Regions from separate parts of the Homo sapiens genome. Here region 2 is linked to region 1. Evidence: fine-mapped expression QTL. A gene starts in region 1. The other region holds a variant in brackets. All regions are shown on one strand. Distances are from middle to middle.

What was found.
Region 2: its variant is fine-mapped to the expression of DCLRE1B in whole blood (INTERVAL, PIP 0.94).

Annotation. Positions count from the first base shown.
Region 1 is chr1:113,900,797-113,911,095 of GRCh38, reverse strand. It overlaps DCLRE1B (DNA cross-link repair 1B), which reads right to left and starts at 5,770. Exons shown (of 4, transcript NM_022836.4): 1 at 5,321-5,770; 2 at 3,935-4,100; 3 at 2,905-3,087. The coding sequence starts at 5,509. AP4B1 (adaptor related protein complex 4 subunit beta 1) reads left to right here and starts at 6,297. Exons shown (of 10, transcript NM_001253852.3): 1 at 6,297-6,491; 2 at 8,234-8,458; 3 at 9,211-9,341; 4 at 9,713-9,860. The coding sequence starts at 6,379. It overlaps AP4B1-AS1 (AP4B1 antisense RNA 1), which reads right to left. Exons shown (of 5, transcript NR_125965.1): 5 at 9,859-10,299. RefSeq lists enhancers at 5,882-5,931, 5,962-6,521, 6,602-6,661.
Region 2 is chr1:113,923,165-113,935,861 of GRCh38, reverse strand. It overlaps HIPK1 (homeodomain interacting protein kinase 1), which reads right to left and starts at 6,538. Exons shown (of 16, transcript NM_198268.3): 1 at 6,330-6,538. It overlaps HIPK1-AS1 (HIPK1 antisense RNA 1), which reads left to right and starts at 6,337. Exons shown (of 3, transcript NR_110726.1): 1 at 6,337-6,500; 2 at 7,474-7,618; 3 at 11,530-11,861. RefSeq lists silencers at 5,808-6,117, 6,138-6,187 and an enhancer at 6,308-6,627. The variant G/T (reference allele first, on the strand shown) is at 6,163.

The DNA.
Region 1 (10,299 bases):
AAGGAAGAAAATTAAGCTATTGGAAAATCCTAATAAATCAACAAAATGTTTAACAAAAATAGATACAATTCATGGAGAAATCCAGGGAGAATATCAAGGAAGAGGTGGCATTTGAGCTAAGACATATGAAAGGGAATGACACAGAATCCACTCATTCATTTAGTTCAACAAAAGAGAGCATCTAGCAAGTTTCAGGCACCATGAAAACTAATAAAGAAAACTGTCAGTCCTCAAGAAGTACTATCTACAAGGAGACCCAGAAAAACCACAATTAAGAGCAACGTTAAAGATATGTGTACAGGCCGGGCACTGTGGCTCACACCTGTAAGCCTACAATTTTAGGAGGCTGAGGCAGGAGGATTGCTTGAGCCCAGGAGTTCAAGACCAACCTGGGCAACCTGGCAAGACCCTGTCTCTACAAAAATAAACAAATAAGCATGTTGGTGCACGCCTATAGTTCCTGGTACACAGGAAGCTGACGCGGGAGGATCACTTGAGTCCGGGAGGTCCAGGCTGCAGTGAGCTGTGATCATGCCACTACCCTCCAGCCTGGGCAACAGAGTGAGACCCTGTCTCTTAAAAAAAAACAAAAAAAGTATACAGTATTGTATCTAACAGGTGATGGAGTTAGGGAACGTTAGGCTAAATCTTAAAGGATGGGCAAGGTTAACCTGGCAAGGAAAGGGTAGAAAGGGTATAGTGGAAAACATTTTAAGAGGGGTCAGTTTGCTGTTACTAAAGTAAAAAAGGAATTGATAAGAAATGATACCAGAGAGGCAAGCAAGGGCCATATAATAGAGCGTCTTATATGTACCGCTAAGAAGCTTGGACTTCATTGTGTAAGTGAAGGGGAGCCACTGAGTGTGAAGCAGGAAAATGGCTAATTCTAATCATAAGAATAATATGCTCAGAGCAGGGCTTTAAAAAGAAAAATATGGTAATAATATTATTTGACTGCCAGGATGAGAAGAAGCTGGAGTGGAAGTTTCAATTGAAGGGCCCAAATAGTACTTACAGAGAAAGAAATGGAGACATTAATTTGGGAAATGGTTATGGTAACAGATATGGGAGATGTTGTTTAATAGCTGTTCTCAGACTTTTTCTGAAGAAGTTTCAAATCCACAACCAGATTGTGAACGCCATAAAAAGAAGTATATATTATTTATATCCACTTTATTCCTGATTATGGTTCAAAATCTCACTCCTTGGGCACAAATGGAGCGGATTTTTCTTCTCTCTATATATATTCCCACTTCCACCTCCCCACAGGTCCTTCCCTACCAGACTGTGAGCCCTCCAAGTCAGAGACTATATTTTATTCATCTTTATATCCCCACTGCCTATTGGATACTTGGTACTTAGTGGGTAGAGGCTTATTACATATTTGCAAAATTAATTAAGGCTTACTATAGCATCCTCCTAGCCAGCTTTGCTTTTTTGAGAAAATTCTGCATTAAAATATTAAGAATGGTTAGGTCTTTATAAGTAGCTAAGCAATCCTGAGAGTAGAGGATATTTCTCAATCGATTTGGTAGTCACCCTGGAAGTTATATAATTTTTTCAATGCCTTTGTTTAGTCTCATTTTGAAACTCCTTTCAGAGTTGAGACATGTCCTTTTCAAATATTTATAATGGTGGCAAGTCTTTGTCCTTTTGTAGACTCACAAATTTGGAAACAACCAAAAAAGTAATTTAGAACCAAATCTATTACATTTATTTATTTTATAAAACAAAAATGTATTTTCATAAACTATTCCAAATGGCAACTCCAAGAAAGAGTCCTCAACAATGTTTTATACTATTTATAATCAGTACAACAAGCACAAACCTGTTTTTTCAGTATACTTAATTTAAAGCACAACGCTCACTTAAATATCTATGTTCTGATAAATTTCATTCATTCATATTGAATGCTTCTGTGTCAGGCATTAGTGTAGGCATTTGTGATACACCCATAATAAAACAGAGACTGCCATAGTGGAATTCACATTCTAGCAGGGGGAATCAGACAATAAAAAGTCCAATAAATACATAAATTATAGAATATATTGCAAGGTGATGAGTGCATATTGTCCCTCTTCTACTTAAAATCCTTCAATAGCTCTTGGTTGGGTTTAGGATCAAGTCCAAAATGGCTTAACAGCACTTCAGCCCCTCTTGCCTTTTCAGCCTCCTTGCCCACTGTGTGCCTGTCATACTGACTGCTGCTTCTCTGTTCCACAAACACACAAAGTCTCTTCCCATTTCCAGTGATGCTCTTAAGGAGTTTATGCTTGTGTGTGTGTGTGTGTGCACGCGTATGTGCATGGGCCAGAGGAAGTGCATGATAGACAACAAGTAAGCAATAGCATATTTAAAAATATATATAGTATATGAGTGCTATAAAAAAATGAAAAAAATGAATTGGTATGGATGATCAGGAGTTGGGAATGGGGATGGTGGGCAGGTTGCAGTTTTACTTATTTCATTCATTCATTCATTTATTGAGACAGGGTCTTGCTCTGTCATCCAGGCTGGAGTGCAATGGCACTTACATGGCTCACTGCAACCTTGACCTCCTACTGGACCCAGGCAATCCTCCTGTCTCAGTCCCCTGTGTAGCTGGGACCACAGGCACGCACCATCGTGCCCAACTGATTTTTAAATTTTTTGTAGAGACAGGGTCTTGCCATGTTGCCCAAGCTGGTCTCAAACGCCTGGGCTCAAATGACCCTCCCATCTTGGCCTCCCAAAGTGCTGGGATTATAGGCATGAACCACCACACCTAGCCAGGTTGCAATTTTAAATAAGGTGGTCAGTGTAGGAGAAAGTGAGAACTGCACAAAGATCTGAAAGATGTGAGAATCCTTAAAGAATCTAGTTCACTATCTACAGGTGACAGGAAACTGAAAGGAAACAACTCACCAATCTTTATGTTATGTTGTGGGTGTTTTCGAATGAGCTGGACAATCTGGTGGGCAGCTTCTTGTCGGGAAGGAAGAACCAGGGCTGGATTGCAATTGGTGTTGTCTAGGTATAAAGTATGGATCTGTTTCCCCAGTGTCAGGGCTGGCTCCTTTAGCATGGATGGTGTGTATCGAAAATCACCTGGAGGAATATGTACATGGGGGCAGAAGGTCAGAGACAAAAGAATAGAAGACAAGCCTCTCCTACCTCCAACAATAGACAGGCGTTTGCTTACTAGTCTGTGAAAAAACTATTATGTAGCCTGGCACTGAACTAGGCAGTATAGCTGCATGGTTTCTTTGTTGTAATGTCTCCATCCTACTCCTATTTTTCAATTACTCTTCACAAGGTTCGGACCCTTAAAGAGTGGGAAATCGGCCAGGCGCAGTGGCTCACACCTGTAATCCCAGCACTTTGGGGGGCCGAGCCAGGTGGATCACCTGAGGTCAGGAGTTCGAGACCAGCCTGGCCAACATGGTGAAACCCCGTCTCTACTAATAGTAAATACGAAAATTAGCTGGGCGTGGTGGCAGGCGCCTGTCATCCCAGCTACTTGGGAGGCTGAGGCAAGAGAATCACTTGAACCCAGAAGGCGGAGGTTGCAGTGAGCCACAATCACGCCACTGCACTCCAGCCTGGGTGACAAGAGTGAAACTCCGTCTCAAAAAGAAGAAGGAAAAAAAAACAGTGGGAAATCAGTTGAGATGGGGTCACTATGCTCATATGTGATGAAGTTAGAAGGCCTCCAGCGCCTCCAGACTTCTATTGAGTTAAGGCTGCTCAAGAAAAGTCTGCCAGGTGTGGTGGCTTGTGCCAATAATCCTAGCTACTGTGGAGGCTGAAGCGGGAGGATTGCTTGAGGTCAGGAGTTTGAGACCAGCCTCGGCAACACTGCGAGGCCCCAGTCTATACATTAAAAAAAAAAAAAAAAAAAAAAAAAAAAAACATCTAGTCTGGAGAAGTCACTGGGATTCCTTGAGAGGCCCACCTGTGTAGAGGATGGTTCCAAAATATCCTTCAAAGAGAAACATGACAGAACCAGGACAGTGATTGGCATCGAGGAGGGTTACGGTCATGGTCTCTTGTCCAATTTCATCTAGGGGTAATACATGGCTCTCACCAACCTCCAGGGCTTGGATCCATTGCTTAGATACCTGAGAAAACAGTTAGTCATCCCAGTGACCACTGACTCCTCTCCGTTACCTCCCCGGGTCAGGGACTATCCCTTACATGAATCAGGAAAGCTGACCAAATCCTGAGCCACCGGGAGCAGAAGCTGTAATGGGGATTCCCAAGCAATCTGCCCTTCCTCCTTCCACTTCCCATCCCACCCTTTGTACAATTTAAGAGTTCAGCTGGCCGGGCGTGGTGGCTCACGCCTGTAATCCCAGCACTTTGGGAGGCTGAGGCGGGTGGATCACGAGGTCAGGAGATCGAGACCATCCTGGCTAACACGGTGAAACCCCGTCTCTACTAAAAAATACAAAAAAAATTAGCCAGGCGTGGTGGCGGGCGCCTGTAGTCCCAGCTACTCGGGAGGCTGAGGCAGGAGAATGGCGTGAACCCGGGAGGCGGAGCTTGCAGTGAGCCGAGTTTGCGCCACTGCACTCCAGCCTGGGCGACAGAGCGAGACTCCATCTCAAAAAAAAAAAAAGAGTTCAGCAAACAGTCTAGTCAGCAATTCCCAAACTTACTCCTGATCTTAATCTCTTGGAGACTTAAGGGTGGGGTGGGGAGAGAGCTGGAGAACCACCCAGCACATTAGGTGGATTCTTAAGATGAGGCAAGTTTAGGCGGGGCGTGGTGGCTCACGCTTGTAATCCCAGCACTTGGGGAGGCTGAGGCGGGCGGATCACTTAAGGTCAGGAGTTAGAGAACAGCCTGGCCAACATGGTGAAACCCCGTCTCCACAAAAAATACAAAAAATTAGCTGGGCGTGGTGGCGTGCGCCTGTAATCTCAGCTACTCAGGAGGCCGAGACAGGAGAATCGCTTGAACCCGGGAGGCGGAGGCTGCAGTGAGCCGAGATTGCGCCACTGCACTCCAGCCTGGGCAACAGAGCGAGACTCCGTCTCAAAAAAAAAAAAAAAAAAAAAAAAAAAAGGCAAGTTTGGGAAACATCGGCCTAGCTTACTTATAAAGGTAGGAATAGTTTCCTTGGCTGGATTAAAATATCTCCTCAACTTATGGCTAACTATCTCAAGTTGGTCACTTCGAAAACACGTTCCTATTCTGGGTTAAAGATGCATTTTTGGGTTCAAACAACTTCCAAATCAGTTTTCGTGGCCCCCATTCTATGACTCCAAGAATGACAGGTTGAAGTCCCAACCCAGATGCCTGGACCAGCTCTCGGAGACCGACTCCAGCCCCATACCTGTAGGTGACGATGCAAGAGGTGGGCTGTAATTGGGGAGCAGTAGAGGGGCCGGGCCCAGGTGCTAGACAGGCCCACGGTGTGGTCCGAGTGCATGTGAGACAAGAAGAAGAGACGTGCGGTGCCAGCCCGGCGCAGGCTCCAGAAGTCCACTGCGATGGGCGTATGGGGGATCAGGACCCCATTCATGGTGGTAGGGTTGGAGTCACCAGTGGGATCTTCTCCACGGGGGCAGGGCTCCTGCGTGAGGCTTCCACAACGGCGTCCCGATAAAAGTCATGCTGGGGCAAGAACAGGGCCAGAGACCCTAAGGGAAAGAGCCCAGCAGAGCAATAAGTTACCAGAGTGGGCAGAAAAAGGAAGTCACCCTGCCCGCTGGAGCCCAAATCGCGGAGGGCGCTGGACACTCCCAACCGCGCGGGAGCGGAGGCCGAGCCGGGCACTCAAAGCGCGCGCTGCAGGGAGGAGACAGGCCAAAGTAGCCGATTTCCGATTGCCCGCCGCAGCTCCACCAGAGGGAGCCGCGCAGCTGCGCCTGGAGAGTGAGAGGTTGGGGGAAGGGCATCCTAAGGTCGGAGTCGGGACTACGCTTAGCGCTCGCTCGCGGGGAGACCGGCAGCGGTCTTCTGTTTGGTCTCTTGACAAGGGGGCGGGACTTCCGCAGAAAGCAAGATTGGGCCTATCCGCGATGAGAACGGCGTGGAGGGGGAATTAAGGCTGGAACTGGAGAGGGAGGGGTCTGCGGTCAGTCGGACGCGGCGCTGGAAATCCGGCGGAGGACCTAGAAGTAGCGGGAGCGATCTGTGGGCGGGGCGAACGGCCTGCCGGCCGACGGTAGGGCCTGAAGAGCCTAGGGTGGGGCTCGCGGTGTCGCGGAGGGCGTGGAAGTGTGTCAGGGCCAGCGTGCCGGCCCTACGGAAGCCGAGCCTGAGGCGAGATCTCGCCTTTTGTATTTTCACTGACTCATATTTCCTTTACTCAGGCTCCCACATCAGGACGAGAAGGAGCCCTCGAGTTACCGTGGGAGCTGTGGGAGCTGCCCTGTGACTCTTAGGAAGATGCCGTACCTTGGCTCCGAGGACGTGGTGAAGGAGCTGAAGAAGGCTCTGTGCAATCCTCACATTCAAGCTGATAGGCTGCGCTACCGGAATGTCATCCAGCGAGTGATTAGGTATCACCTACCTCCCTTCGCGTGCTAACTGCTCCCTTTGCAATCCCCATCAGGGCTCACTAGCCCCAGTCTCTCTGAAAGGGTGAATTAGCTTTCACACGTGGCAGTTATATGGTTCGGTCTTCGTCCTGCTGCTTTGGAGTACCATGTCAGTCTCCCCTCTGCAGCATCTTTTACTCAGCTGGGTAGTTTCCTCCATATCACGGGCTTGAGCAATTACTGGTGACTCTTGGATCTATAATATAGCTAGTACAGACTTCCTTTTTTAGCTTCAGACCCACGTATCCCACTGCCTGCTTGGCATTTCCACGTGCGTGGTTTATCAAAAGTATGTCCGAAATAGCCCGGACATTCTTCCGTCTTCCTCAAACCTGTTCAGCTTACATTTGTGTTGATGAATGCCACCAGCAGCCGACTATGCGTGGGAGCCAACCTTGAGGACACCTGATCTCTCACTTCTTATGTCAGATGGTTTGAATTCATAATTCTAAATATCCATCCTCTCTTGTTTATTAGCATTGTTGTTCTGGTCCAGGCCTTCATCAATAAAGCAATTGCAGCAGCTTACTAGTAGGCCACTTTGCCTCATTTGAGACAGAATTTTTCCATTATACATACCTGAACACATAACTCTTGCCTACAGCTATGGTTCACAAACTTTACTATGCATAAAAATCCCTTGGGGTGCTTTTTGTCATCCAGTCCAGGGACTGATTCTGATTTCAGTAGGGTGGGAGGGAACCCAGGAATCTGTATTTTTAATAAACATTTCAGTTGGTTCCAGTAGGAGACCAGTCTGAGAAACAATAAAGTCCAAACTTATCACAGCACCCAAGGAACAAGCTGTTAATTCAACTACCTACAGACTCTTAAAAAAATGTGTGCTGCTCCTGCTCATGTCTACTTACCTCATAGCATGTATCTTTACCTTGCTATTACATCTGCCTAGTGAGCTCCTGCTCATTCAGCTAAAGTATTACTTCCTCTGTGAAGAAACATTTTCTGACTTCCTGCCAGTGTCAGACCTCTGAATCCCCTCTACACCTTGTACAATACTTCTGTTTAAGTACTTATCTATCATACTGTAATTAACGGTATTCTCATCTGGCTCATTAATAGATTTGAAGTTCCTAGAGGTTTGAGACCACACCTTCTTCAAGATTATGTCCCAAGAGCATGTCCCTGGATGTAAAAGTTGAATTTCACCAAAGTACTAGGGATTCAATAAGTGTTTGTTGAGGCTGGGTGCGGTGGCTCACGCTGGTAATCCCAGCACTTTGGGAGGCCAAGGCGGGTGGATCACCTGCAGTCAGGAGTTCGAGACCAGCCTGGCCAACATGGAGAAACCCCGTCTCTACTAAAAATACAAAAATTAGCTGGGCGTGGTGGCACGCACCTGTAGTCCCAGCTACTCGGGAGGCTGAGGCAGGAGAATCGCTTGAACCTGGGAAGCGGAGCTTATAATGAGCCGAGATTGTGCCACTGCACTCTAGCCTGGGTAACAGAGCAAGACTCTGTCTCAAAAATAATAATAAGTGTTTGTTGAATGAATAGAAGAATAATGTTTATTGTAGGCCTATGGTATGAAGTACTGTGTGATATAATAGACAAGGTAATCCTGGCTGCTACCCTCTAAGAGATCACAATCTAGTTGGGTAATCAGGAGATATGTAAGTAAAACTCCCTCCATTGTAAGTTGGGGATTTTGCATTTTACTTCCTTCTGTCATGTGCGTTGTTCAGGTACATGACTCAAGGCTTGGACATGTCTGGTGTTTTTATGGAAATGGTGAAGGCCAGTGCCACTGTAGATATTGTCCAGAAGAAGTTGGTTTATCTGTACATGTGCACATATGCTCCCCTGAAACCAGATCTGGCTCTCCTGGCCATCAATACGCTGTGCAAAGACTGCTCAGACCCCAATCCAATGGTGCGAGGGCTGGCGTTACGGAGCATGTGTAGCCTCAGGTGAGTACCCTCTTCTCTGTCTGGTCCTAAATGGCTGATGAATTCAAGTGATCACAGGGTAGGTTTTTAAAGAGGATAATTTATTTGAGCTCCTTAATACTGGGGAAAACATTATTGTACCCTGAACTCAGATTTTCAGCCACTGCTTTGGCTTAATAACCTGTATCATATAATTTTATTAGAGGGAGTTTTTGATTCTCACTCTAAGTAAAATAGTCCTCAGTTTTGGTTAAATATCTCTAAACAATTATGTGTATATCTTTTTTTGCTGCCTGTGCATCATTATTCCAAATGAAAAGTCAAATTAGGCTGGGCACAGTGGCTCATGCCTGTAGACCCAGCACTTTGGGAGGCTTAGACAGGAAGATTGCTTGAGCCCAGGAATTTGAGACCAGCTGGGCAAGATGGTGAGAGCCTATATCTACAAAAAATTAAATGGGCATGGTGACACGCACCTGTAGTCTCAGCTACTAGGAAGGCTGAGGCAGGAGGATGGCTTGGGCCCGGGAATTCAAGGCAGCAGTGAGCTATGATCGGGCCACTGGGTGACAAAGTGAGACCCCATCTTGAAAAAAACAAGAAAAAAACAGAAAAGTCAAATTATGGCTTTTTAAGCTTGATAGAGGCTTTCTGCAATTCTTCATGATCTGATGGGTGCAGCATCTACTAAACCATCTGTTAGGTGAACAGGGGCTGAGGTATGTCAAAATTAGTATTTCAGAATCTGGCTAACTCCAGGATGTGTTGCTTAGGATGCCTGGTGTGCAGGAGTATATACAACAGCCTATTCTCAATGGTCTGCGGGATAAGGCTTCATATGTCAGGAGAGTGGCAGTCCTTGGATGTGCCAAGATGCATAATCTTCATGGAGACTCTGAAGTAGGTAAGTTCAGTGTAATCCATCATGGTCAATGTGCCTCCATTATGTATAACTTTAAAAAAGATTGTGTGGCTTTGGTAGAAAATAATAATGTGGCCCCAGTTCTGTACATATCTCTTTAAGTAGGATGCAGGGCTTGGTATCTTCTGGAGATGAGAAGTCCTTTCTCTGGGGCCCCAATGAGATCCTTTGTATTAGCTGCTTAGAACAGTCTGGACATGGCAGTTTTTTTTTTGCCTTGCACTTTAGTGTGGCCTTTGTCATTTTTGTAGCAGAGAAGTTCAACTTTGTCTACCTGGAGCTATTACTCTGGCTACATCCTTGTTACTCTGAAGCTTTCCTTCTTTATCTAAGAACTTTGTTCTTTTTTATAGATGGTGCCCTGGTAAATGAATTATACAGTTTGCTGCGTGACCAGGATCCAATTGTAGTTGTGAACTGCTTGAGGTCTCTAGAGGAAATTCTGAAACAGGAAGGAGGCGTTGTCATCAATAAGCCCATTGCTCACCATCTCTTAAATCGGTTTGGATGCCTCAGCACTCTTTTTATTATGAGATCTGCTACCTTGTGGGATCTTGTTGATGTATTAAAGTATTGAACAACTTATGTGGGGTAGAAAAGAAAGTTAACCATTATTATTATTATTATTTGAGACGGAGTTTTGCTCTTGTTGTCTAAGCTGGAGTGCAATGGCGCTATCTCGGCTTACCGCAACCTCCGCCTCCTGGGTTCAAGCAATTCTCCTGCCTCAGCCTCCCGAGTAGCTGGGATTATAGGCATGCGCCACCATGCCCGGCTAATTTTGTATTTTTAGTAGAGACAGGGTTTCACCATGTTGGTCAGGCTGGTCCCAAACTTCTGACCTCAGGTGATCCGCCCGCCTCAGCCTCCCAAAGTGCTGGGATTACAGACGTGAGCCACTGCGCCCGGCCAGTTAACCACTATTAACTCCCTCACATTC
Region 2 (12,697 bases), 24 kb before region 1:
TTCAATGTGAATAGCAACTCAATAAATTAAAAAGCTATTTTTGACACACTTGCAGTCAACAAGCATATGAAAAATTGCTCAACATCACTAATCATTAGAGAAATGCAAATCAAAACTAAAATGAGATACCATCTCACACCAGTCAGAATGAATATTATTAAGAAGTCAAAAAATAACAGATGCTGGCAAGGTTGTGAAGAAAAGGGAACACTTATACTGCTGATGGGAGTATAAATTAGTTCACCCATTGTGAAAAGCAATGTGGCAATTCCTCAAAGAATTTAAAACAGAATTACCATTAGATCCAGCAATCCCATCACTGGGTAAATACCCAAAGGAATATAAATCATTCTACCACAAAGACACAAGCATATGTTCACTGCAGCACTATTCACAATAGGAAAGACATGAAATTCAACCTAAATGCCCATCAATGGTAGACTAAAGAAAATGTGATACATATACACCATGGAATACTATGCAGCCATAAAAAAGAACAAGACCATGTCCTTTGCAGCAACAGGCAACATGGATGAAGCTGGAGGGCCACTATCCTAAACAAACACAGAACAGAAAACCAAGTACTGCATGTTCTCACTTAAAAGTGGGAGCTAAAGAACGAGAACACATGGACACAAAGAGGCCAACCACAGACACTGGGGCCTACTTCAGGGTGGAGGGTGGGAGAAGGGAGAGGATCAGAAAAAATAAATGTCAGGCACTATGCTTATTACCTGGACGACAAAATATCTGTACACCAAACCCCTGTGACATATAGATTACCTATATAACAAACCAGCACATGTACCCCTGAACCTAAAATAAAGGTTTAAAAAAAAAAAACAGCTGATTCTTTTTTTTTTTTTTTTTTTGAGACAGGTTCTCACCACTGTCAGTGAGGCTGAAATGCAGTGGTGTGATCACAGCTCACTGTATCCTCGAAATCCTGGGCTCAAGCAATCCTCTGCTTCAGCCATCCAAGTAGCTAGGACTACAGGCACACACCAGGACGCTTGGCTAATTTCTACAGGCACATGCCACAGTTGGCTAATTTTTTTTTTTTTTTTTTTTTTTTTTCAGAGATGAGGTCTTACTATGTCACCCAGGCTGGTGTCAAACTCCTGCTCTAAAGCAATCCTCCTCCTGCCTTGGCCTCCCACGATATTGAGATTACAGGCATGAGCCACCGTACCTGGCATAAAAAGTTATTTTTGACTTCCTGAAAATGCTGCGCCTCTTGACTCCAGCAATAAATGAAGTCTTTACATTTCAAATCTGACTTTCCAAGGACTTAACCATCTCAATATAATGACAAATTTGCCCAGTTCATTAATACCAAAGTAGCAATGATGGGCAAAAGATCATTGGTACTTGTACTTATTGCTAAAAGATAATAGCTAGAATCCAAGGCTTTCAAAAACAGATTAACAACTTTCCCACTCCCTGGCATGGTCACATCCATTTAACATTATTTACTGGGTGCTCCACACTATAAGCACTATAGGCAAATAATCTTATTAAAAGGATCCAAATATTATAACCCTGAATGGAACAGTTGGATAAGACAACCCAGGTAATCATTTTCCATTGATTTGTCCTTACCCCTCAGTAACCTTTTTCCTGACACACCAGTAATAAATTCCTGTTGCTTTTGCTCAATGTTATCTTTGCCTCTTTCATACAATTTAACAGCTGGTTAGCCAAATGACCTAAAAACTGTACTATATATTGATTTCTTGCTCCAGCACTTATCCTCAGATGACATGAACACAGGTATACATATTGTCTATCACATACTCTGATACATATTTTTTACAGATGATAAGAGTACATCTTCTGTAAAAACAAAGTGAGACAAGTTTGGGAAGAAAATTCTTCCCAACAGAACACCTAAATCTCTCTCTACTCTCCTAAGTTTTCTCCACCCCTACTGCACAATCCCATACTTAAACAGCTTAACTGGTTTCCTCCAAATTGTACTCTCAACTTCCCCCCTTTATTTGAGACTCTGTCACCCAGACCGGAGTGCAGTACACGATCATGGTTCGTTCACTGCAGCCTGGACCTCCAGGGCTCAATCCACCCTCCTACCTCAGCCTCCCGAGTAACTGGGACTACCAGTACATGCCACCACGCCCAGCTAATTTTTTTGTATTTTTTGTAGAGACAGGGTTTCACCATGTTGCTCAGGCTGGTCTCAGACTCCTAAAGTGATCCACCTACCTCAGCCTCCAAAAGTGCTGGGATTACAGGTGTGAGCCACGATGCTGGCCTCAAGCCCCTTTTCTAAGCTCCCCTCTCCCAATTCATTATTCACCTCTCAACTGAAGCTTTTAAAAATGCACATCTGAAAAAAAAAAAGTGTACCTATCCCCCACTTAAAACCTTAGGACAAACACCAAAATTCCTAATTTGGATTACCAGGCCTTGCAAGATCTGGACCACGATTACTTGCACAGCCTTGTTTCATCTGCGCTTTTCCCCAGGCACTTTCTCTTCCAATACTACCAAGTCTCTCTGGGTTCCCACAATAGACCTTGCCTTCTCTGGCCCTAGTTCCTTCAACATGTTTCCTCTCTGAACTTCATTTTCCCCCTTAGGCTTTTCTTTTCCTAACTTTTACTTACCCTTCTAGTCTCTGCTTAAAGCTCACTTCTTCAGTGTGGCAGAGGCTGTTGCTTTGTATCAAAATCAATAGTTCACTTAGATTTATTTGGAATGACTACGGCAACAGAACAAAAGAAAAGTAAGTGCTTTGTGTTTAGTAAAAAGGTACTACATTTTAGTACCTGCACATAACAGTCTATAGGTCTATAAAGCTTAGAATTAAGAAAACTATACCTTGAGGAGTTTCCAGGATAAGAAAAAGTTAAAATTAACAAAGCAGAGATCAATATGAAACATAAACAATATGCCAGCAAAGGCTGAAGGAAAACGGGACTTAAGTAAGGCAACAGCAGTTTGGAGAATGGAAGATGGAGGAGGCTCTTTCAGAAGAATGAGATGACTTTTGCTATGCTAGTATGCCAAAGGATGTGGAAAAATAAAAAACCGTGTAGAGTAAGGAGATATATTTAACTGGAGCAGAAGACACTAGCAAAAAAGTACTGGAACTCTTACAGATAAAAGGGACCTTAAAGATTCTAAAACCCCCTAATTCCGAGATGAGAAAAAGGCGATCCAGGCCAGGCATGGTGGCTCACGCCTGTAATCTCAGCACTTTGGGAGGCCGAGGCAGGTGGATCACTTGAGGTCAGGAGTCTGAGACCAGCCTGGCCAACATGGCAAAACCCTATCTCTACTAAAAATACAAATATTAGCCAGGCATGGTGGTGCGTGCCTGTAGTGCCTGTAGTCCTAGCTACTTAGGAGGCAGAGGTATGAGAATCACTTGAACCCACCACTGCACTCCAGCCTGAACCCACCACGGCACTCCGACCTGGGCGACAGGGCGAGATCTTGTCTCAAATAAAAAAAAAAAAAAAAAAAAACAGATCCAAAAAGGCCAAACGAGTTTTACCCAGCGCTAATGAGTAGCAATGCTGGCAAAGGTCTTCTCATTCTTTTTCCTTAAGCACTCTGGGAAAGCACTGTACCAGGTACCCTTAAAGAATCTAAAAGAAATGTAAGTTTCCTTACCTTCAAAAAACTTAAAATGTTGCTGAAATGATATAACACATGAAAAAGAAAGAAAAATATGAAAACAGGATGTAAATTTTTCAAGTGCCAAATTATGCACTACAGGAATATATTAGGCATTTAGGAGCTGGGTTCCAACAACTAAAGGGAAGATCAGGAACAAAAACAAAAGGAACCAAAAGACAAACCAGTGATTGTTGAAGTGGTACTTAAAGGAAAATAATCTTGATGACTTGTGTTCAGAATGGCACAAAGGGAGAGGAAGGGAAGATAACGGGAGGAATAATAGTAAATTTTTTTTAAAAAGACCTAAAAAATACAGACTGCTGTTATACACTCATGCAGGTGGCAGATCAAGCAGCTCATGTTTGCAAAATTACTTCAAATTACAAGACCAGTTACAATATATAACTAACAAGCTGCACAAGTTCCAAGTGTAAGAACTTTACAAGGCCGGTATGACTCACTGATTTGTACCAACAAATCATTGATGGAGCTGTGCTTATAAAAACAAAAGCACAGAATGAAAGAAGTTTATTTTCCAAAGAATTGTGAACTTTGAGATTATCTCTTCTTTTTTTTTCTTTTAGAAGGAAGTTCTGGTTTGGTTTGAAGTCTCAAGTTACCAACGAACTTGCTCAAAAAACCACAAAACTACAGTGTCGAGAGATAAACTATTCATGAAGGTATCACCAGCAAAAGTTCTACTTGCCAACCAGAGCCAGTATATTTATAAGATCTCATTCACCATTTTATTCTAAGATACTTTACTGGCTTGGCTGCCTCCAGTTCCAACCGCAAGTACTTTACTAAAATATCTTTCAAGCCAGGAACAGTATCTTAAAGTCAATGCCACCCTTCATCATAACAGTATTATAACACAGAACCCTGAGATAATTACATGTAAAGATCCAAAATCACCAGCTGAATAATGAAAATTAGGTCAAATGATTTGTTAGATTTTAAAATGTTTTATAGAAAGCTTTAGGCTTCCATATGAAAAAAGCTAGTAATAGTTTGCATTCTCTATAATCTTACAAAAAAAAAAAAAAAACCCACAGACCAGAGATCAAAAATAGCTTTACACAAACAAAAGGAAAATTGTAGGTTTGCTGAGGGCATCAGCCACTTAATTTAACCCTATTTCATCAAGAGCGGGAAGCCACACTGCTGTTTTCACCAGTTACTAAGAAACAAGATAAAGGACAGATTGGGACAGAGAGTCTATAGCTGAAAGTATTATGTTGATGCAATTACTGAGAATTCCCAAAGTGTCACTAATAGACAAGAAAGAGCATCTAGGACTGCCTCTAAATGAGTCTACCTACAACAGAATCAGTGATTAAGTAAAGAAAAGACTTACTGGAGCTTGGGGGTTTTCCCCCCCTCTTCCCTACCCGCATCCTCCCATCCTGAACCCCCCTCCCCAAGTAGGAAAGAAAGCTCGCCCAGCATAAACACAGGCCATTGCTCACAGCTCGTCACCACAACAAACTGGAGGTTAGACCAACGCTCCTGGAGACGGAACTCCACGTCTTGGTTGCTAAGCACAAAAAGGGGACTCTTCCCCACAGACCTGTGAACAGTGTGGGCCTTACCAGAATTTTGGTTGTTTCTCCACCTTCCCCCTCCCTTTTGTTTTTTTAACGAAAGCTTTGAAAGTGGTGGCAGCAAAAGTTTCCCTTTGGGCCAGACCTCTAGATCTCCCTTGTACAGATATACATTAGGTGGGCTGGTCTCACGTAGTCTCCACCGTCATTACGAATTACAAGCCTAACGACTACAGAACATCAGCGGAGACGACAGAAAAGCTTCCACACCCACCCCACTGTCGTCCTCTCCAGGCACGGCTTCCTGGTCCCAAACAGCACAAATAACCCAAAACCATGGTGATAAGCGGAGCTGTGAAGTACACACGCACAAGCCACACACTGGGAACCTGCCACGACAGCCGGGGAAAAAACCGGCCGAGTGAGGAGACGCAAGGCGGTCCCCTGTCACTTAAGGACAACACGCCCAGGCGAGAAGTGGCAGGAGGCAGGGGGAGTTGCCCCGAAAACCAGCCCGGAGCCTCCCCACCTTCCTGGGAAGGCAATCCCCTCAGCGGCAGTGAGCGGCCGGGCCGCAAGACGCGGCGCCCGGTCCCAGGCAGGGGCCCTTTGAGGAAGGCGCCCCCGGCAGGCTGGGCGCTCCAGGAGAGCCGGCGGCCGGCCCGGCCCCGCCTCAGGGAGCTGAGGGGAAGTCGCTCCCCGCCGAGGACCCCTCCTGCCCGTCCCCACTCACCGCCGGTGTGTCTGGTTCTCAGCCGCGAGCTGGGGCTGCCGTGAGGAGGCGGCGGAGGAGACGAGATCTGGGGCCCCGCAGCCGGGTCATCATACCCCCCGCGCGAGCCGGCCCGGGCCCCGGCCCCCGCCCCCCGGAGCCGTCCCCGCGCCCGTCCCGCAGGGGGAGCCTCCTCAGCCTCCCTCCCGCTCCACCACCCAGCCCCTTCCCGCCGCCGCCGCCGCCGCCTCAGCCCCGCGC[G/T]CTCCCGCCTCGGCCTCCTGCTGCCGTCCGGGGCTACCGCCGGGCCCCTTGCTCCGCAGCCGCCGTTGTCGCCAGACCCGACGAACGGAATGCCGAGCGGCCGTCCCTCAACCCGGCCGGCCCCGCCTCGCCGGAACTATTCACCCGCCCCGCGCCATGACACCTACTGAGGCGGAAGTGCAGCTGAATGGACTCTCTAGGACGATCGCATAGTACTGATTGCAGTAGGAGTCGGTGGGCCTCGAGTAGGTGGGCCTCCGTAGGGAGCCAGCGTGGATCGAGTGCGGGGCCTGGACTTCCCGCCCCCTCCGCACTGCAGACTCTGCGGTGATTTAAAGGTGCCTGGCGGTGGTACGGGATCCAACTGTAAAATGTCATCCCAGCTAGTGTGACATCACCACAGTTTAGTGTGACACCCCCAGAGCTTGGGCAGTGTACGGGACGACAGTGCCTAGCAGAGGAGCTTCACTGCCGGTGAGGGATTACCTCAGGTTAGGCTTTAATGTTTCGTTGCCGTCTAGAGACGTTCTAGCAATGTGACATCTGTGTACCATATCTGGAAGTCTCCCTGTACGTCAAGAGCCCCTTAGGGGAGTCTCCCATTGCCGCCGTGGGAACCTGTGTTTACATTACGAGGAGAGAGAATAGCTGTACTCTGAACTCAAACGCTCAAAACATGCAGTGAGCGAATGCTAGCATAATTTTCTTGCCTCTACCAGAAGGAAGGCTGGGTATTTAGGAAACAGAACGCGTTGGGCACAACATTCTGAGAAAATGGACACAGAAAATTAGGTTATCCTAATAGAAAAGCAGTTGCATCTCCCAAAGTCAAGAGATTCTGTAGGACTTCCGATGTATCTCCTGCTGTGTAAAATATTCAGGTTCCTGAAGTGGGGGACATTTTTAGGGCAACTGTAATTTCTTCATTTTTTCCATCCCACAAGTGCTGGAGGCAGCAGTGATCTGAGCTCTAGAAAGTGACTGTCCGTCACCATCGGTATTTGCATATACTCTGTGAGGAGAAGGGCAGTTGTGGCTAAGACAAAATTCTACTATCAAGTTTTGTTTCTCAAATCTCACTCATTAACATCTTTGATTTCCTTGGATCCCCATAACACACACAGAAAACTATGATTTGTGTAAAATGCGCTGAAGTACCTTTTAAGGGAAGTCATTTGGCTTTCTCTCTGGCTTAACAACACGGGGAGCAGTTCCATTTTATCTGGAACAGGGAAGTTTATTTCCCTAGAGAACTAGGGTTACCAAAAATGTTCGATCCCACAAGGCAGTTTTGTTTGCATATTTTCACAGAAACTTCCTTCTACTACTTAAAGTCCTCACATTGGGCTGACCTGGGAAACATGAAGATAAAAAGAGTGGGTAAACATGCCTGCTTGATGAGCCAGAAAAAAAGGCAGAAACCTGTGGTCTGGGTAGAACAGATCCTGCTCAGAATGTAAGCTTCAAACATGTTTATCATGCCTTGGTTCAACCTAACTCTCTGACATGTTCCTAAACTCCTGCTCTCTCAAGTTATGTCCCTTTCCTCTTTTCAAATATCTCTCAGAATTCACCCTTTCGGGAACCTTTGCTGATTGACTCCTATTTTATTTGAATTCTGCATCATCATCTGATTACTTAAATTAACCTGTACCTTCTTTATTTATACTTGTTAACTTCTATTTTCATTGCTCTTAGGTCCTCAGTCTTTCTCACTATACGGAGAGCTTCTTAAAGTCTGTATTTTCTCCTCTTTAGTATCATTCACTCATTCATCCAGCAAACTGCTTGTGTGCCTGCTCTGTGCTATACACTCTTCTAGACACTGGGTCAGGTATGAATGAGACAGGTGAATAAAGCATGGTCTTTTCCCTCAGGGACCTTACAGTCTAATGAGGAAAAAACGTGTGCAGACATATATAAGATAAGTGAGAGAGTCGGAGAAGAACATCAGAAGTGATATTTGAGCATAGTAAGGTCAAAGAAGTTTCAAAGTTTAGTCATTTGTCCATTCAGTAACTATTTATAGAGCATCTTCTGTGTGCTAGGCACTATATAAGAAATTAAGGGGCTGGGTGTGGTGGCTCATGCCTGTAATCCCAGCACTTCGGGAGGCTGAGGCAGGTGAATCACCTGAGGTCAGGAGTTCGAGACCAGCCTGGCCAACATGGTGAAACCCCGTCTCTACTAAAAATACAAACATTAGCCAAGTGTAGTGGCGCATGCCTGTAATCCCAGCTACCCTGGAGGCTTAAGCAGAAGAACCGCTGGAACCCAGGAGAAGAAGGCTACCATGAGCCGAGATTGCACCATTGCACTCCAGCCTGGGCGACAGTGAGACTCTGTCTCAAAAAAAAAAAAAAGAAAGAAAGAAAGAAATAAAAAAAAAAGAAATTAAGGATACACAGAAGAAAAGGCATGGTCTGTGCCCTGAAGGAGCTTACAGTTAAGCAGAGAAGTTGCACGATTTGGAAGTAGTAAGGTAAATTGAGTCAGATTTTGAAAGGCAATGTAGAGCTGTTAGAAGTTTATTCGCACAGGTAGCCAGGCACAGTGGCTCATGCCTGTAATCCCAGCACTTTGGGAAGCCAAGGTGGCAGATCACTGGAGGTCAGGAGTTCAAGACCAGCCTGGCCAACACAGTGAAACCCCATCTCTACTACAAATACAAAAATTAGCCAGATATGGTGGCATATGCTTGTAATCCCAGCTACTCGGGAGGCTGAGGCAGGAGAATCGCTTGAATCCGGGAGGCAGAGGTTGCAGTGAGCCGAGATCGTGCCACTGCAGTCTAGGCTGGGCAAACAGAGCCAGACTCTGTCTCAAAAAAGAAGTTTATTCAGACAGGTAATGTGAGAGAGAACTAGTGATGGTGAAGGAAGAGGGCTAGCTGGAGTGGGTAAAGACTGGAGAAAGGGATCCTAATCAGAAAACTATGATGAGGGTTTGATTACACAGGAAAGAAGGCGAGAAGGGGCAGATATGTGAAATACATCCTCCTAAACCAAGTCAGAGCAACTGGAGAGGGAGGTGGAGCAGTTAGCAATCGGAAGCATTCAAGTTTCATTCAGGGTATGACATCCTTCTAGGGCCTACAGCCTAGATTCAGTGTTGCAGGCAAGAAGTCATTTGCCCAAGAGCGGCAGTGCTTAAGGCCAAATAGGAGAAGCTGATGAGAAGGCTGTGTCTTGAGAGAAGCTGAACCAAAAAGCTAGGCAAACTATTCAAACAAATAGTGAATCCTAGGGGCTAGGAAAAAAAAGAGAATTTAAATAGAAGCCAACAGGTTGTGAAACTGGGAAAACCAGATTAGAGTGAAGGTCTGCAGTAAACGATAAAAAGCAGAAAAGTCCCTTGAGCCAACAGGAGGAGAACCTCAATGATTTTTTAAAAATCCAGACCCCAGAATACTTTTTATTTGGAAATAATGTTAAACATACAGATATGTTGCAAGAGTGACAAAAAGAGGACCCAGATTATTAACATCTTGCCCCTTTTGCTTTATCATTTGCAGTTATAGATAGATAGAGTTATATTACACACATACATGCCTTTTTTTTTTTTTTTTTTTTTTTTTTTTTTAGACAGAGTCTCACTCTGTCACCTAGGCTGGAGTGCAGTGGCATGATCTCGGCTCACTGCAACCTCCACCTCCTGGGTTTAAGCGATTCTCCTGTCTCAGCCTCCCGAGTAGCTGGGATTACAGGTGCCCGCTGTCACACCTGACTAATTTTTTTGTATTTTAGTAGAGACGGGGTTTCACCGTGTTACCCAGGCTGGTCTTGAACTCCTGAACTCAGGCAATCCACCCACCTCAGCCTCCCAAAGTGCTAAGATTATAGGTGTGAGCCACCGTGCCCAGCCCACGTACATATTTTTTTTTCCAAGCAGTTAAAAGTAAATCGCATGCATCATCCTCCTTTACCACATAATACTTGAATATCCTAATAAGTACATTCTCTTATGTAAACAAAATACATACAATTAACAACTCCAGGAAATTTAACATTGCTGTAATACTTTACCATCCATGTTCCAAATGTTGTCAGTTGATCAAATAACATCATTCTTAGCATTTTTTTTATTTTCCAGCACAAGATCCAGTTTAGGATCATATATTACATTTAATTGTCATGTCTCTTTAGTGTTCTTTAATCTGGCACAGTTCCTCAGCTTTTCTTTGTCTTTAATATTTTTGAAGAATACAGGACTTTTTCTGGTAAGGGGTAATAAAATGTTCTTCATGGCTGGGCGTGGTGGCTCACGCCTGTAATCCCAGCACTTTGGGAGGCCAAGGTGGGTAGATTGCAAGGTCAGGAGCTCAAGACCAGCCTGGCCAAGATGGTGAAACCCCATCTCTACTAAAAATACAAAAATTAGCCAGGCGCGGTGGCAGGTGCCTGTAATCCCAGCTACTTGGGAGGCTGAGGCAGAGAATTGCTTGAACCCGGGAGGCGGAGGTTTCAGTGAGCCAAGATCATGCCACTGCACTCCAGCCTGGGCAACAGAGCAAGACTCTGTCCCCCCGACCAAAAAAAAAAGATCTGAGCATTAGGCCCACAGTGATTTATTACTGAATGCTTGTATGTGAATATCAGCCCTTCAGCCTCCCTGCTCATCCCTTTCCTCAGGTTGCAAGCCTTAGGTATTACCAAGATTTTTCTCTTAAGACTCCTTTTGAGTATCCTTAGCAGAGAAAGCTTGCATAGGGAAATTTGGCAGACACTGTCCGTTGCCTATTCAAATGAATAGTTAGGTTTAGCTAACTTGTGTAGCAAACAATCCCCATACCTCAGGGGCTTATGGAAAGGTCACTGCTAGCTGGTCCATGATGGCATGTGCTTATAGTCCCAGCTTCTCAGGAGGCTGAGGCAGGAGGATTGCTTGAGCCCAGGAGTTCAAATCCAGCCTGGGCAACATATTGAGACCCCCATCTCTAAGGTAGATAGATTAGATACATGGATGGATGGATGGATGGATAGATAGATAGATAGATAGATAGATAGATAGATAGATAGATAGATATTACTGATATTGGTGAGAGCCACTACTCCCATCTCTGAGAGAGGGAGAGAGAGAGAGAGAGAGAGAGAGAGAGATAGTATTTGATCTTCGAGAGAGCGGTTTTAGTGGCATAGTTTGGGCAGAAGCTGTGTGGTTCCTATATAGGATTACTCATAGTATGAGTGGTGACTGACAATCTGGGAAGAATGGCCTGGTCCAGCTGAATGGTAGAATCTATTCTGGTCAATACCCATATTCAGCTCTCAATATCCAAGGAATCTGCTTGGGTCCACATCAGCTACATCTGAGAAGTTATGAAATGAATCATTTTGACTACATTCTCTATCACTTCTCTTCTCACAGGTATAAACCAGGAAAAGTTGTTCTGGCCCCTCATCTGGTTTCATGAAGGACAATATCTAGCATGAGAGTGACAGGGGTTAGAATAATGGACATTTTGGGGACTGGGTCCTAGCAGAAATGATGGAATAATGGAACAGGAGTTTGGATGAATGGGCATATTATGGGATTAAAGAAGATTTGAATACAAGCTTTCCTAATAAATGAAAGGGGAGGTGAAACTAGAGCATGCTGATGGCTGCACAGCATTGTGAATGCACTAAATGCACTAACTGTCCACTTTAAAATGTTTAGTAATATGTCGATTTTACCTAAATAAAAAAAAGGAAGCAACATAGTGAGTCATCGTCTCTATAACAATTTTATTCAGATGTCTTGGAGGATAAACCTTTCTTTTTTTAATTAGCCAGGCGTGGTGGCACACACCTGTAGTCCCAGCTATTCAGGAGGGTAAGGTGGGAGGATTGCTTGACCACTAGAAGTTGAGGCTGCAGTGAGCTATGATCTTGTCACTACACTCCAGCCTGGGCAACAAAGCAAGACCCTGTCTCAAAAAAAAAAAAAAAGTGGGGTGGCAGGGAGGGAGGTTTTCAGGATTTAGAGACAAGGCACAATTACCCTTAATTTTCAAGGGTCAACCCAGAGACTATTGTGGGGAAAGAACAAATGCCTTGACTCCTTATATAACCCATGTTTATGACTCCTCAGACCCTCCTTCCTCCATAATCATTTCTAATGTCACCCTTTTCTACACATAATGATCTTACTCTTTCTCACTTTTCTCATATACCAACTGTTTATGTAGCAAAAGCAAGGAATAGTGCTTTTTCTCCCTTTCCTTGGGTCAGCATTTCTCATTATTATGCTTCCTCTGTTATGTAGTTTCTAACCTTTTCTTTTTTTAAAAAATCATCCTCCCCACTCTAAGATTCTCACCTTTTCTTTGACCAACTGTTACACAGAATTTAGCATCTGCATTCCATATGTCTTTCCCTATCATCAATTTCAAGCAATATCTAAAACCAAAATAAATGGTTTGGGAAGGCACACAGAGACCCACATGAAAAGGGCAATGGAGCAGAACAGGAACTTGAAATTTAATAATTGAATATTATTTGTGCTAAGTCATTTTGTACTTCCCACAAACTCAGAAATCAAAAAGCCCCAATGA